Linked DNA regions of Homo sapiens. The protein of the gene in region 1 purifies or fractionates together with the protein of each later gene. This does not show direct contact. Each region holds a gene or a part of one and is shown on either strand. Other genes may lie near its edges.

The links. The genes of interacting proteins can lie anywhere in the genome.
Region 2: the proteins of MKRN2 (region 1) and FYTTD1 purify together in Homo sapiens (affinity purification with mass spectrometry, with the first as the bait; one large-scale study listed by BioGRID). This does not show direct contact.
Region 3: the proteins of MKRN2 (region 1) and IARS1 purify together in Homo sapiens (affinity purification with mass spectrometry, with the first as the bait; one large-scale study listed by BioGRID). This does not show direct contact.

What each region holds. Positions count from the first base shown.
Region 1 is NC_000003.12:12,576,360-12,581,616, reverse strand, and holds part of MKRN2 (E3 ubiquitin-protein ligase makorin-2), read right to left. Parts: intron 4,987-5,257; coding exon 4,876-4,986; intron 1-4,875. UniProt on the Homo sapiens protein: E3 ubiquitin ligase catalyzing the covalent attachment of ubiquitin moieties onto substrate proteins.
Region 2 is NC_000003.12:197,773,179-197,778,435, reverse strand, and holds part of FYTTD1 (UAP56-interacting factor), read right to left. Parts: intron 5,034-5,257; coding exon 4,937-5,033; intron 4,288-4,936; coding exon 4,226-4,287; intron 1,510-4,225; coding exon 1,435-1,509; intron 99-1,434; coding exon 1-98. UniProt on the Homo sapiens protein: Required for mRNA export from the nucleus to the cytoplasm. Acts as an adapter that uses the DDX39B/UAP56-NFX1 pathway to ensure efficient mRNA export and delivering to the nuclear pore.
Region 3 is NC_000009.12:92,282,645-92,287,901, reverse strand, and holds part of IARS1 (isoleucine--tRNA ligase, cytoplasmic), read left to right. Parts: coding exon 1-111; intron 112-1,283; coding exon 1,284-1,366; intron 1,367-2,062; coding exon 2,063-2,180; intron 2,181-5,257. UniProt on the Homo sapiens protein: Catalyzes the specific attachment of an amino acid to its cognate tRNA in a 2 step reaction: the amino acid (AA) is first activated by ATP to form AA-AMP and then transferred to the acceptor end of the tRNA.

The DNA of each region.
Region 1 (5,257 bases):
AAGCAGGATAGGAAGTATCCCCACTTACCTGCAGCCTTGCAAAGGATATTAACCTGCCTGGGGACTTGCTGTGTGGAGACTGCAGTGCTCCACAGGCCCTCCGGCAGCTCCAGAGCACCTCCTGGGTCACCACAGAGCTAAGCCAGGCCTGGTCACTCCTCTGGGCACTAAGCTCTGAAGCTGGGCCACTTGTCTCTGCTCAAAGTTCCCTAGGTACCCCACCAAGCCAACTCTCCCCTTCCTCCTGGCCGCAGTGCTGTCAAGGTGGCTACAGGGAAAGCAGAGGGTTTTAGCAACTGCCTAAAGCCATAGGTCTCCTTCCAGTTTTCCTGTCTCCAACCTCGGCACCAGGGAGGGCTTCTTCACGCCTTATGTGCTTTGGACCCCTTCTCTGAACAGTGTTTTTCAATGCATAAAACATGGGTCTACAGCATACAGTGACCAAACAGTTCAAAATGTTTTCCCTCTCTCTTAATTCTACCATTCTCCCCACAGACCTCTATGTTAAGAACCCTGCCCAAGGAAACTCAATCAAATGAATTCCCATTTTGCTCAAATGAACTCTGGTTTATCCAATCATAAAGGATCCCAAACTGAAGTTAAAAAAAAAAAGATACCCAAGAATCCAGAGGGCCATCTCGGAGTACAGAGGAAGGGGAAAGTCACAGAAATAAAGCCAAACAACAGAAAGGGCACGCTGCTGTCAGGGGCAGCTGGGGTGTGTGACAGCGGGAGACAAGAACAGGGAAAGGAGGCTCCTGAATCCAGTGGTTTTCCGTCTTGTCAGATGGGATGGCCGCAGGCCGGTGGTGAAGTTCTCTGAGGACGGCTTCATAGCAGCATAAAGAAAAGCCCTCTGGCCGGGTGTGGTGGCTCACACCTGTAATTCCAGCATTTTGGGAGGCCAAGGTGGGTGGATCACTTGAGGTCAGGAGTTTGAGACCAGCCTGGCCAACACAGCGAAACCCCATCTCTACTAAAAATACACAAATGAGCTGGGTGTGGTGGCTGGCACCTGTAATCCCAGCTACTCGGGAGGCTGAGGCTGAGGCAGGAGAATTGCTTGAACCCAGGAGGTGGAGGCTGCAGTGAGCCAAGATTGTGCCACTGCACTCCAGCCTGGGAGACAGAGTGAGACTTCGTCTCACTGGGGGTGGTGGCGGGGGGGTAGGGTGGGGGGAGAGAGAACAAGCTCCCTGGCCAGCTGATCTGATTTGAGCACAGGTGGCTGGAGAGCAGGTGTGTGGACGACACATCCTCCAGGCCCCTGCTTGCCTGGAGTTCTGAGCGGACTTCAAATGACCGTGAGCAGTTTGCTCTCACCAGAGCCTGCTGGACAACTCCAGAGCATCCTAGCACACTGGCTATGAACTCGATCAGGTCAAACACATTATATACTGGTCCCCCACTCTCACAAGAATATTACTCTTTTTCCTCCCCCAGGCTTATCTGGTCACCAAGGCCAAAAGCCTCCAGTTCACTCTGACTCACTCTGTGTCCTCGGCTCTCACACCCAACTGTGTTCATTCTGTTTACAAATCACTTCCCAATCTCCCCTTCCTTTGGGTTCCCACACTTGTGGAAGCCTCTGGGGCCTGCCTGCCAGGGCCACTTCCTCACTGGCCTCCCTCCCACTCCCACCAGTTTCCACCTTCAGAGCAGCACGGAGGAGCTTCCCAACCTTTTTTTTTTCTTTAAAGAGATGAGGTCTCCCTATGTCTCCCCTGGACTTAAGCAATCTGCCCTCCTCAGCCTCCCAAAGTGCTGGGATTACAGGCATAAGCCACTGCGCCTGGCCCCAACCTGTTCTTAAAGACCATGGTCACACTGGGATTCAAGTGTCCCTTAGATTCCAGTCTGTAGGTCCCACCACATCCTTCTACACACCTGTTTCAATGCCAGGAGCCACTCCCAGTGTCCCCCAGACACAAAACCTACACCCTTCTGTGCCCATGTCCTTCCATCACTTCCCCCTACAGACAGGTGCTTCCTGCTTCATGGTTCAGGCTCCCATGCTGCTTCCCCTGGCAGCCCCCGGTGGATCCAAGTGCTTTCTCTGTTGTGATAGATGGTCCCTCATGAAGAACTGGTCACCAGCAAACCTGTATCATAATTGCCCTTTTGCAGTTTCCCATGAAGTTGTCTTACTTGGCGGGGCACAGTGGCTCACACCTATAATCCTAGCACTTTGGGAAGCTGAGGTGGGTAGATCATCTGAGGCCAGGAGTTCAAGACCAGCCTGGCCAACATGGCGAAACCCCATCCCTACTAAAAAAATACAAAAATTAGCTGGGTGTCGTGGCGCACACCTGTAATCCCAGCTACTCGGGAGGCTGAGGCAGAAGAATCACTTGAACCCTGGAGGCGGAGGTTGCAGTGAGCTGAAATCATGCCACTGCCAGCCTGGGTGACAGAGCGAGACTCGAAAGAAAAAAGAAATTGTCTTACTAATCTCTACATCCCCCAGTGGTGCTTAGCTAGAAGGTACCTGACCCATAGTGAGTACTCAGTAAATGTTTGTGGATTGCAAAAAACACAGTCATTAAAGGAAAGCAAAGCAAGGAAAGATCCAAATAGCAATAACAATCTCCAGACTGCTTTTCAGCAGAGCCCCTTTCTACAGGCTGGGACCCTTTTCTACAGGCTGGGGCCCTTTTCTACAAGCTGGGACCCCTCTGCTTGCCACGCCTTGCCCTCTTGTGGACACACAGGAAGATTGTATGAGGAAAAAATGGTAAAAAAAAAAAAAAAAAAAAAATCAAGCTTTAGTAAACTAATATGCAACATAAAGGAACCATTAAAAAAGGTAATGCATAGTTTCACTTTTAGTATGACAAGTAAACGCCTGCCATACCCAACCCTCCTGCAGATAAGTCTTAACACAAATATTTCAAGAAGACCTGAAGGCACCAGAGAATGAACAAACGCAGTTAGATTCTTTGGAGGAGTAAACACAAAGAAGAATAGCAATGGCAAAGGCTAAGTTACCTTTTTTAAAAAAGGTAGCTTTTGTGGCTCACATCTGTAATCCCAGCATTTTGGGAGGCCGAGGCAGGTGGATTGCCTGAGCTCAGGAGTTCAAGACCAGCCTGGGAAACACAGTGAAACCCTGTCTCTACTAAAATACAAAAATTAGCCAGGCGTGGCGGCATGCGCCTGTAGTCCCACCTTCTTGGGAGGCTGAGGCAGAAGTGCTTGAACCTGGAAGGCGGAGGTGGCAGTGAGCTGAGACTGTGCCACTGCACTCCAGCCTGGGCTACAAAGCAAGACTCCATCTCCAAAAAAAAAAAAAAAAAAAAAAAAAGAAGTAGCTCTTATCCTGGAGCAGGCCAAAATCATAACCACATGGGGTGGCTAAAACTCCAAGGGGAAATCCAATCTTTCTGGCCTGAAGAACTAAAAGACAAGAGTTCAAGGAAATCACAGCCATTGGAAAGTGAGGAAGCAATCCCACAAAGTAAGGGGCCTGTGAAAAAGTGCTCAAAGGCTGTGTATAAACTCTGCCCAAATCTGACTAACTCCCAAACCACACAGGAATGCGACAAAGTCAGCTACGAATGCAAAACCAGAACTGAGATCTGAACTGCTACCTGGGTTTGAGTTCAAACAATTTACCTGCCTGTTAAAAACAGCAACACTTGGCCAGGCGCAGTGGCTCATGCCTGTAATCCCAGCACTTTGGGAGGCCGAGGTGGGCGGATCACCTGAGGTCAGGAGTTTGAGACCAGCCAGGCTAACATGGTGAAACCCCGTTTCTACTAAAAATACAAAAAATTGGCCAGGTGCAGTGGTGCATGCCTGTAATCCCTGCTACTCGGGAGGCTGAGGCAGGAGAATCGCTTGAACCCGAGAGGCAGAGGTTGCAGTGAGCCGAGATTGTGCCACTGCACTCCAGCCTGGGCAACAAGAGTGAAACTCCGTCTCAAAAAAAAAAAAATCATCACTTTACAGATAAACCATAACAGAATCCTAAGTCTCTCTACAATGTAATATTTACAATGTCAAGGATAAAATCTAAAATTACTAGACATACGAAGAATCAGGAAAATGTGATCCATTCTTAAAAGACAACAGAGGTCAACTTCAAGATAACAAGGATTTCAAAGTAGCTGCTACAACTATGTTCAAGGAGATGAAAAGAAAAAAAGATTGAAAAAGAATGAATATCCCCAGAGATCTATGAACAATATAAAAAAACTATCATAAACGGAAGTAGAGTCCCAGCAGGAAAAGAAAAAAACAAGACAGAAAAAAAGTTAATGAAACAATAGCTAAAATTTCGCTCATCTTGGGGAGTGACATAAGCGTAGAGAAAAACCACTCCACTCCTAGGCAAAATATCAACATGCTGACAACCAGGATAAAGAGGAACATTTGAGGCCGGGCACGGTGGCTCATGCCTGTAATCCCAGCACTTTGGGAGGCCGAGGCAGGAGGATCACTTGAGCCTAGGAGTTCAAGACCAGCCTGGGCTACATGGCGAAACCTTGTCTCTACCAAAAAAAATTAGCCAATTAGCTGGGCATGGTGGCGCACACTACTGGTGGCCCCAGCTACTCAAGAGGCTCCTGCTTGAGCCCAGGAGGCTGAGGCTGCAGTGAGCTGAGATTGCACCACTGCACTCCAGCCTGGGCAACAGAGTGAGACCCTATCTCACCGAAAAAAAAAAAAAAAAAAAAAAAACACCAAAACTAAACAGGTCCACATCACCATGTCCTTGCTCATTGCTGCATCCCAGAGCCCAGCATGGTGCCTGAGAGAAGGAAGAGAGGAAGAGGCCCCTAAGACCACACTCCTGGGAAGGAGAACGAGGACACGGGCTGACAGCAGAGCCAGGCAGGCAGCAGGGGCACGTCGAAACTCAAAAGCACTTACCCCATCCCCTGTTTGAAAGCTTCAATCAACTCGTTCTTTTTATTCTGATCTTCCACCCAATACACACTTGGAATTACAAACTCTGATATCACACGGCATTCTGGACAAGACCTGAAATAAGAATTAGATTACTAAGGGAGAAGTCATGTTACGAAGCCTGGGCACACTCTCTGCTAAACCTCTTGCTCAACTGCCTCACCACTACAGGCATTTCCTTCACCAGAAATTCCAAAAGATGAAATCACAATCATCCAAGAACCTTATTTACTATTAACAAAATAGGGTTTCCCAATGAGAACACATGGACACATGTGGGGGAACATCACACACCGGGGCCTGTCGGTGCAGGGGCAAGGGGAGGGAGAACATCAGCACAAACAGC
Region 2 (5,257 bases), about 190 Mb from region 1:
GCAGGGGAACACCTTTAGGAACTTTCTTGACGTCACTTTGCTCCCGCTTTGTTAAAAATGAAGGTACAGCAGTACGAGTTAATCGTGGTTTCTGAGTTCTATTAGAAAAATATTAAAATATCAGAGCAGCTTAACAATGAAAAGAAAAATAAATTCACTTGGTACTTAAGACATCTTGTACACATGTTCAAATGTATTAGGGCCATTTTATTTGTGTTCTCAAAAAAAAAGTTTCACTGGCTACTCTAGACTAAAATATATAATTGTTCAGAGAATATCTCTTTAAATAGAACTACAAACTTTTCAACAAGTTGGAATGTTTGGTGATTCCTAACTCTTGATCTTCCATTAAAATAAAGCAACCTCTAAAGTCCTAGGTACCCATCCTACATGCTTTTCATTTCAATCATTAAGATGGCTGGAGGGCTAGGCACTGTGGCTCGGGCCTATAATCCCGGTACTTTGGGAGGCCAAGGCACAAGGATCGCTTGAGGCCAGGGGTTAGAGACCAGCCTAAGGAACACAGCAAGACCCCCATCTGTACAAAAAAAAAATTAGCTGGGTGTGGTGGTGCATGCCTATGTTCCCAGCTACTCAGGAGGCTGAGGCAGGAGAATTATTGGAGCCCAGGAGTTCGAGGCAGCAGTGAGCTATGGTGGCACCACTGCACTCTAGCCTGGGCATCAGAGTGAGACGTTATCTCTTAAAAAAATCAAGAGATGGTTGAATAGAACATAAGCTCCATAAATTGACAAAGTTTATAAAGCAATAAATTTAAAGAGAACGTAGGTCTGTATGGTCTGAAAAATAAAGACATCGAAAACATTACAGGGATTAGGAGAAGTAGCATGTATACCATCATCTCGTTTATTATTGTACACAAAAATATATATATTGGGTCAGGTGCAGTGGCTCACACCTGTAACCTTAGCATTTTGGGAGGCCAAGGCAAGAGGACTGCTTAAGTCTAGGAGTTCAAGACCAGTCTGGGCACAAACAAACAAAAAAGCCAGACATGGTGGTGGGCAACTGTCGCTGCAGCTCCTCAGGACTCGGGAGGCTGAGGCAGGAGGATCGCTTGAGCTTGGGAGGTCAAGACTGCAATAAGCCATGATCATGGCACTGCACTCCAGCCTGGGTAACAGAGCCAGACCTTGCCTCCAAAAAAAGGGTACACAGAGTATACATGCACATAATTTTTAAAACATAAAAAACACTGTTCCAACGTGGTCATTTAGGGCTGCAGAATCAGGAATCAAGAAAGCTCTTACTTTACTTTACACCATATACTGTTTCCATATTGTATCACAGGTATTACTGTCTTCCTGGTTCATCCCAACTTGGACATCATTCTCTGAGCAGAAGTCCAATACTTTCTTATGATCTCATGTAATGAGAGGTTATAATTTTTGCAAAAAGAAAGAAACAACTTACACTGGGCATTGCACTGCTCCAGGATTGTCAATAGATACAGTCAAAATCCCTCCATTTGTGGTGGAAGTCCGCCATCTAGTTTCAAAAAAAATAAAAAAAATTCATTAAATGTAAGTTGATAAACCCTATGTATATTCAAAATAAAAATGAACATTAAAAGTAGCCATTACTTTTTCTTAGCTTGTAAGAAATAAGTACCTGAACCCCACCATGATATAATAAATCAACATCTTGGGTGCGGAACTGGGCATCTGAATTAATTTATTAAATATTTTTCAGTGTAATAAATGTATACAAATTTAAAAAAATCAAATAGTACAAAAGAACTTCTAATAAAAAGCAACAGTCCCTCACCCCACTATTCTCCTGCTTTCTATTCCTACTCTCCAGAGGCAGCACTTTTAACCTGTTTTTACTGCTTTCTGGTTACTTCCAATTCACTAAACAAGATGCTTACATAGTAAAAAAAAAACCTTGCTGCAGCCGGGCACTGGCTCACACCTGTAATCCCAGCACTTTGGGAGGCAGAGGCAGGTGGATCATGAGGTCAGGAGTTCAAGACCAGCCTGGCTAAGATAGTGAAACCCCATCTCTACCAAAAAAAAAAAAAAAAAAAACAAATTTAAGCTGGGCGTGGGGTGTGGTGGTGGGTATTTGTAATCCCAGCTACTCAGGAGGCTGAGGCAGAGAACTGCTTGAACCCGGGAGGGGGAGGTTGCAGTGAACTGAGATTGTGCCACTGCGCTCCAGCCTGGGCAACAGAGCGAGACTCCATCTCAAAAAAAAAAAAAAAAAATTGCTATGATGAATAAAGATTTAGTTCGTCAAACTATCCTCCAGTTTCCTTACCCACCATGAAACATTTTGATGGCTGTATCACTATTTCCAGGCCTTTGTAACTGAAAATACTTAAATCTCTGTTTCTTTCAGCAGAATCTCTTGAACCCACCCCCAGCTTTATGTGAAAGGATAATAGTGCCTCTATTCCTTCCCTCCACCTCTGCTCCTTTGTTTGTACCTCTCACTTTCTGTCAGCTCTTCCTTTATATTCACATTAGTCAAAATCGGACATTTACATTATATTGTTCTCAAATTAACTATTTTGTGCTTTGTCTAACAGGTTGATTCTCAAAGTTCAAAACAAATAACATTTATATGATCACAATTATGTAAATATTGTTCACTGCAGAAGCAAAAAGGCTACAATTATTATTTCTTTCCCCATGGTTTCTAATGTCATGACCCCTGTGCTAAAGAATACCACCTGTATCAGTTTCACAGTTTCCTAACACTCCAATTGCTAAAAATCATGCACCACAGTTGGCACCATATCTGGGCCCTGACCATGTTTTACAGCCAGCTCTCTGTATCCACAGGTTCTACGTCCATGTATTCAATCAGTTGCAACCGCAGAATGAAAACAATCCACGGATATGGAGGGCCGATTGTAAGGGACTTGAGTATCTGAGGATTTTAATCTCTTCAGTGGGCCTGGAACCAATTCCCCTGAGACACAGAGACAATCCGCGGATATGGAGGGCCGACTGAAAGGGACTTGAGTATCTGAGGATTTTAATCTCTTCAATGGGCCTGGCAACAATTCCCTTGAGACACAGAGGGCCAAGTGTATATATTTTATTTTCCAAAAAGTAGTCATAATTTTAAATAGTTTAATCTCAAAACCTAATCACACTGATGGAATTAGTATGTTACAACTCACACTTAGGAGGTGTGATTATAACAGGATAAAATAGGTTTTCAAAAGATTTTTTATAGGGCTAAGAAAAAAAGACTGTGAAAAGGAAAACTATTGTTTTTAAAGTTGTACAAATGTTCTAAAAGCTCCACTGAATTTTATTCTATTCATTCCCTAAATAGGTTCATTTGTATGAAAGCAGTTATAGCAAAAAAAAGAAAAAGAAAAAGCTGTTTCATTAAAATGGTATAGCCAATAAAAAATAAAAATAATAAAAATGAAGTAATCTACGTGGCACTAAAACTGTTACAATATCGACACATGAAAACTCAAAAGGTTTTTGGGGAAAATTAACAAAGGACAAAACAAGATTTATTTATTTTAGCCTCAATGTTTAAAAATTTTTTTGGAGACAGTCTCCATAGCCCGAGCTATGCTGCTCAGGCTGGTGTGCACTGGCCATCGAGCTATGCTGCTCAGGATGGTATGCACTGGCGATCGAGCTATGCTGCTCAGGATGGTGTGCACTGGCCATCGAGCTATGCTGCTCAGGCTGGTGTGCACTGGCGATCGAGCTATGCTGCTCAGGCTGGTGTGCACTGGCGATCGAGCTATGCTGCTCAGGATGGTATGCACTGGCGATCGAGCTATGCTGCTCAGGATGGTGTGCACTGGTCATCGAGCTATGCTGCTCAGGCTGGTGTGCACTGGTCATCGAGCTATGCTGCTCAGGATGGTGTGCACTGGTCATCGAGCTATGCTGCTCAGGCTGGTGTGCAGTGGCAATCAAGTTATGCTGCTCAGGCTGGTGTGCAGTGGCATCGAGCTATGCTGCTCAGGCTGGTGTGCAGTGGCGATACACAGGTGACATTATGGCACTTCACAGCCTTGAACTCTTGGGCTCCATCAATTCTCTTGCTTCAGTCTCCCAACTAGCTGGGATTACAGGTGTGTAGCACCACTATGCCCAGCTTTCAGACTGAATTTTATTTTGGGTTTCAATTAATTTCTTCTGGACTGAGGTACATGATAATTTGGGTAGTTAGTATTCTGGGAGTTTTGAAATAACATCTTAAAAAACAAATGGAAACTTACTGACGAGTTCTCTTTGCTACTACATCGTCTAGCAGTTGTTCTGTATTCAACTGGGCCTGCACCTGAAGGGAAAAAAAAAGCAGTAGGTACCACAGAAAGCAGAGGATTTGAATCCAAAGAGCGATCCTGCTCTGGAACTTCCTAACCCAGTGGTGCGTGTACATGAGTGCAGCGGAGGTGCCTGCGCTATTCTACAACTTCCTAACCCAGTGGGGCGTGTGCGTGAGTGCAGCGGAGGGGCCCGCGCTATTCTAGAAATTCCTAACCCAGTGGGGCGTGTGCGTGAGTGCTGCGGAGGGGCCCGCGCTATTCTAGAACTTCCTAACCCAGTGGGGCGTGTGCGTGAGTGCAGCGGAGGGGCCCGTGCTATTCTAGAACTTCCTAACCCAGTGGGGTGTGTGCGTGAGTGCAGCAGAGGGGCCCACGCTATTCTGGCAACAGTTCCCTGTTGGAATTCCTACATGAGAACGAGTGGCAAATACAGGTTTATTCCCAAATAACGAGTTAAATTCTTATAAGACATTGCTATTGAGGGTAAGAAAAGATGGGAAATAAAAAACATACAACAGGAAGAACTAATCTACTACCACGTGCCTCACATCCTGAACCCAATGCTGCCTATGACTGAGGCTTACTAAAGGTGGCTGCTCAGGATCCTCTTTGGGAAAAAACAAACAAACAAACAAAAACACTGCCAAAGTTTTTAAATACCTTCAGGCCTCTTCTGAAAAGAAAAGTTGCCTGACGAGTATCTTTCTGATGATTTAATTTATTTCCACTCCTGGTAAAATTAGCTGGAATGTTATTTCTGCAACAAAAACACATAGGCCATGCTAAGCCATTTAACTACTTTCAAACATCTTGAGGAAAAATAAGCAAAAATAGTTAAATTCATAGGCTGCAAACATGAGGTGCAAGAAACAAACAACTCTGAATTATTTGCTTATTAACATGAAGCTACTGAGATTTGATTAACAAATACCTCCCTCCGAAGCATAGCACATAACCACGTGTTAATTTCAAACCACTTTA
Region 3 (5,257 bases), on another chromosome or scaffold:
ATTGATAAGACACTGGGAATCAGAGGACCAGAGGATGTGGCCAAAATGGGGATTACAGAGTATAACAATCAGTGCCGAGCAATTGTGATGAGATATTCTGCTGAGTGGAAGGTATGTTGGGTTTTTTTCAGTAGAATGAACAGCAAATGTAGTTACTAAATGGGCATTGAAATGGTTTATGGTCCCTTGTGCTTTTTTTATTAATTTATTTTTTGTAGAAAAAGTGTTAGCTTCCACCTTCAACCCTATTACTTAAACGGTTAGCTTAAACTGAACCATCTCTCTTCTGACTTCTGTGTGCTTAATTGGTCTAACTTTCTTGCATGATCACCAATAGGGAAAAATTCTAATAAGTATAACATGATATATAGGCCTTTTCTTTTTTTCTCAAATACTTTTTTCAATTTTTTTAACTTTTCATTTTGAAATAATTTGACTTATTAAACAATTGAAAAAGTAGTATGATGGGTTCCCCTATATCCTTCATCCATCTTTCCCAGCTGCTAACATCTTCGGTAACCATAATATTAATAGAATTTTCAAAAGCAGTTGCCCCATTAATTTTTATTTCTGACCAATCACATATTGCATTTGGTTGTCATGTCTTTTTAGTCTTCTTAAGTATGGAACATTTATTTAGTCCTTTGTATTTCATGGCCTTCTCACTTTTGAAGATTGCAGAACAGCTATTTTCTATAATGTCTCTCAATGTGTGAGGTTTCCTGATTTAATTTAGGTTATGCATTTTTGGTGACAATGCCACAGAAGTGATGCTATGCCCTTCTCAATGCATTATATCAGGTGGCATGTGTTGCGGCTATGTCACATTGATGGTGATAACTTTGTTCACTTGGTTAAAGTGCTGTCAGCTTTCTGCTTTGTAAAGTTGTAGTTTTTCCTTTGTAATTAATAAGTATCTTGTGGGGAGATTCTTTCCAAATATTCTTTTTTTTGTCATACATTCACTTATTAATTTTAACATCCATGGATGGTTTTTGCCAGTAATAATTATGCCTGTGATATTTGCCAAGTGGTGGTTTTGGTAGACTTTTATAAGTGAATATTTATACTTGTAAATAACATTTTGTGCATGTAGGATGAATGCCGAGAAAACTGGTTCTTAACCTTACATAATATGTTGTTGGCAGTATAGATTTACTTGTACCATTGATTATTCTGTTTTCCCAAAATTTTCATTTGTGATGACAACAGAAATAAACACACATTGATGTACAATTATAAATATCATTGTCTAATACTGTTCTAATATTAATATTTTAAAGTCTACTGTTAGCAGACTTGGCCGATGGATTGACTTTGACAATGACTATAAAACTCTGTATCCACAATTCATGGAATCAGTCTGGTAGGTTTATTTAAAATTGTAAATATGGTAAATATTCTATTCTGTTGTATTGATAATTGGAAAAATGCACTAGCATGAATCAGTTTATTTTTGAGTCCATCGTTATTTCTCTGAAAATCTTTGGGAACAGGTTTGTTTTTGAATGTAGAACTTTTATTTTTATTTTTTTGAGACTGAGTCTCGCTCAGTTGCCCAGGCTGGAGGGCAGTGGCACAGTCTTGGCCCACTGCAACCTCCGCCTCTCAGGTTCAAGCGATTCTCTTGCTTCAGCCTCCCAAGTAGCTGGGATTACAGGCGCCCGCCACCATGCTTGGCTAATTTTTGTCTTTTTAGTAGAGATGGGGTTTCACCTTGTTGGCCAGGGTGGTCTCGAACTTCTGACCTAGGTGATCCATCCACCTTGATCTCTCAAAGTGCTACGATTACAGACGTGAGCCACTGCGCCCAGCCTGCCAGTTGCTTTTCTTAACATTATGTGTTAAATATCATTCGATATCAGTAGATATTAGCATTTTAATGTCTGCCTGATGTCTTACTATATTGATCTGTTATAATTTACCAGCCAGTCTCCCAATGAAAGACATTGTTTTTTCACTTATTTGGCAGACAGAAACTCTAAAAAGAAAATGGCATAAATGTTTGCATTTTCAGAAATAGAATTTTGTTCTGTAATTGTGAAACTCCATCTCTTACCAGGTGGGTCTTCAAACAACTCTATGATAAAGGCCTTGTTTATAGAGGTGTGAAAGTCATGCCCTTCTCTACGGCATGTAACACTCCACTTTCCAACTTCGAGTCACACCAGAATTATAAGGTACGTGAAATGTAGAGACATTATTCAGCATTGAGTTTTGTAGGTGGAAGCTGAGTAGTTATGATCACAGTAGGTATTCCCAAGTAGACCCAGTGTGGAATGTTGCCCACGACATCCACCACTTTGACCACTTCTTACTGAGTGCTGGAAATATTGCCAGTTAGTATACTAAGGCTCTGTTAAGATGAGGGATTTTTTTTCCACATTGGATTTATGATGTGTCTTAATGTGATAGGTTTTGCTTGTTTTGACCATATTTTTGTGCCTCTCTGTTGGGTTAACAAGTCCAGCTTTGACATACTTCCTGTAGTCATCGTTTCTTAAGGGTTGAGTAATTTTATGCCTTATCTGGGACCTCATGATATCATTTATTTGTTAACGGTATTTGGAAAAAAATTAATTTGAGATGCCAAATGGTATTATTTTTCCTCTGATGAGATAGAATCAGTTGTTGTTGTTGCTATGATTGAGGTGTTTAGACATGTTTGATGTTTACAGAGTGTATTGTTATACCATATCTAGACAGATATTATATACTAGTAAGTCTTCTGAAATGTGAACCATCTCTTCTCGTGTGTATACTGAGTTGTTTTCAGTTTTGAGAGTTTATCTGACCCTCTGTTTTTAAAGGATGTTGACTTGTTTGGAATTCTTGTTTCATGGCCTAGGTTTGAAAATTACATTAGTAAAATTTGCCTTTCAAAGCACGTTTTATTTATAGAATGCTTTCACATATCCTGTTTGATTGATCTTTGTAAATCCTTGTAAGGCAGGTATGATGATTTCTATTATCTCCTTACCACCTCTCTGTGCTCATGTTTGTATTTTTTTAGTAAAATATTTTAAGCACTTAACAATGTAGAGAATGATATGGTAAACACAAGGTTTCCAAGGCTTACCTTTGTCAAATCTTAATATATTGCTATATTTGGTTTTTGTTTGTTTGTTTGTTTGAGTCAGAGTCTTGCTCTGTCGCCCAGGCTAGAGTGCAGTGGCGCGATCTTGGCTCCCTGCAACCTCCACCTACCCGATTCAAGCAGTTCTTTGCCTCAGCCTCTGGAGTAGCTGGGTTTACAGGTGCCCACCACCACGCATTTTTAGTAGAGACAGGGTTTCACCATTTTGGCCAGGCTGGTCTTGAACTCCTGACCTTGCGATCCACCCACCTTGGCCTCCCAAAGTGTTGGAATTACAGTTGTGAGCCATTGCGCCCGGCCTGTTTGGTTGTTTTTTAAAACACTTGAATGTGGACAGTTTCAGGGACATGCAAAAGTAAACAGAATGGTATAATTAATTTCTGTAGGCCCATTAAGGCCCCCAGCACCAATGACTGGCTAATCTTGCCTCATTCATACACATATTCTTTCCCACTTTCCTTCCAATTCTGAAACAAATTCCAGATATCATATTATTTCATCAAGAAATAATCCAGTATAGATCTTTCATAAATAATCTTTATCTTCTTTAAACATTGCCATGTTAGCATTCGTTGTCACACCTTAAAAAGTCATCAGCAGTTACCTTTTTGTTGTTGTTGTTGTTTTTGAGATAGGATCTCGCTATGTCACCCAGGCTAGAGTGCAGTGGCACGATCTCGGCTAACCACAGCCTTGACCTCCCGGGCTCAAGTGATCTCCCCTTTCAGCCCCCTGAGTAGCTGGGACTACAGGAACATACCACCATACCTGGCTAATTTATGTGTTTCTATAGGAGTGGTTTCACCATGTTGCCTGGGCTGGTCTTGAACTCTTGGGCTCAAGCAGTCCACCCGCCTTGGCCTCCCAAAGTGCTGGGATTACAGGTGTCAGCCACTGCACCTAGCCACCTTTAATAGTTTTTATTTTAATATTCTCAAATTATGTAATTCCTGAACATCATCAGTTCATATTTCTAATGGTTTAATCATTTCCCAAGGGGTTATATTTTATTTTTATTTATTTATTTTTTTAAATCAGGATCTACCAAGACTTAAACACATGGTGACTGTTGTCTTTTAGGTCTTGTACACGTTTCAGTTGGTTATATAACAAGTAGTGGAATTATCGAGTCAGAGTATACTTTGTTTTAATTTTTATTTTTTTGAGACGGAGTCTCACTCTGATGCCCAGGCTGAAGTACAGTGGTGTGATCTTGGCTCATTGCACCCTCCTCCCAGGTTCAAGCAATTCTCCTGCCTCAGCCTCCCGAGTAGCTGGGATTACGGGTGCCCGCCAGCATGCCCAGCTAAGTTTTGTATTTTTAGTAGAGACAGGGTTTCGCCATGTTGGCCAGGCTGGTCTTGAACTCCTTACCTCAGTTGATCCACCTGCCTCAGCCTCCCAAAGTGCGGGTATTTTTACAGGCGTGAGCCACCACGCCCAGGTGAGTCACAGAGTATACTTAATTTTTAGTTCTAATACTGAGGTTGGGAAACTTTCCTCTGCAAATTAAATATTTTAGGCTTTTCAGGCAAAGTGTTCTCAATTTTGTCACCATTCTTAACTCACCCACTGTATGAAACAAGTGATGAGCCAGATTTGGCCCAGGGGCCATGGTTTGCTGACCTCTATTCTACGCGGTCTGTATATTGATTGTTAACCAAGGGTTTTTAAAATTTTTTTGACTTGACCAAGCACAGTGGCTCACACCTGAAATCCTCGCACTTTTGGAGGCCGACCTGGGCAACATGACAAAACCCCATCTCTACTAAAATTACAAAAATTAGCTGGGCGTGGTGGCGTGAACCTTTAGTTCCAACTACTCCACAGGCTGAAGTAAGAGAATGACATGAGCCCAGGAAGTTGAGGTTGCAGTGAGCCGAAAGTGTGCTACTGCACTCCAGCCTGGGTGACAGAGTTAGACTCTGTCTCAAAAAAAAAAAATATATATATATATATATATATGTGTGTGTATGTATATATGTAAGTATACATATATATGTATTGGCTTAAAACTTTTATTTATTTATTTTTAGAGAAGGGATTTCAGTCTGTCACCTAGGCTGGAATGCAATGGTGCAAACACAGCTCACTGCAGCCTTGACCTCCTGGGTTCAAGTGATCCTCCAGCCTCACCCTCCTGAGCAGCTGAGACCACAG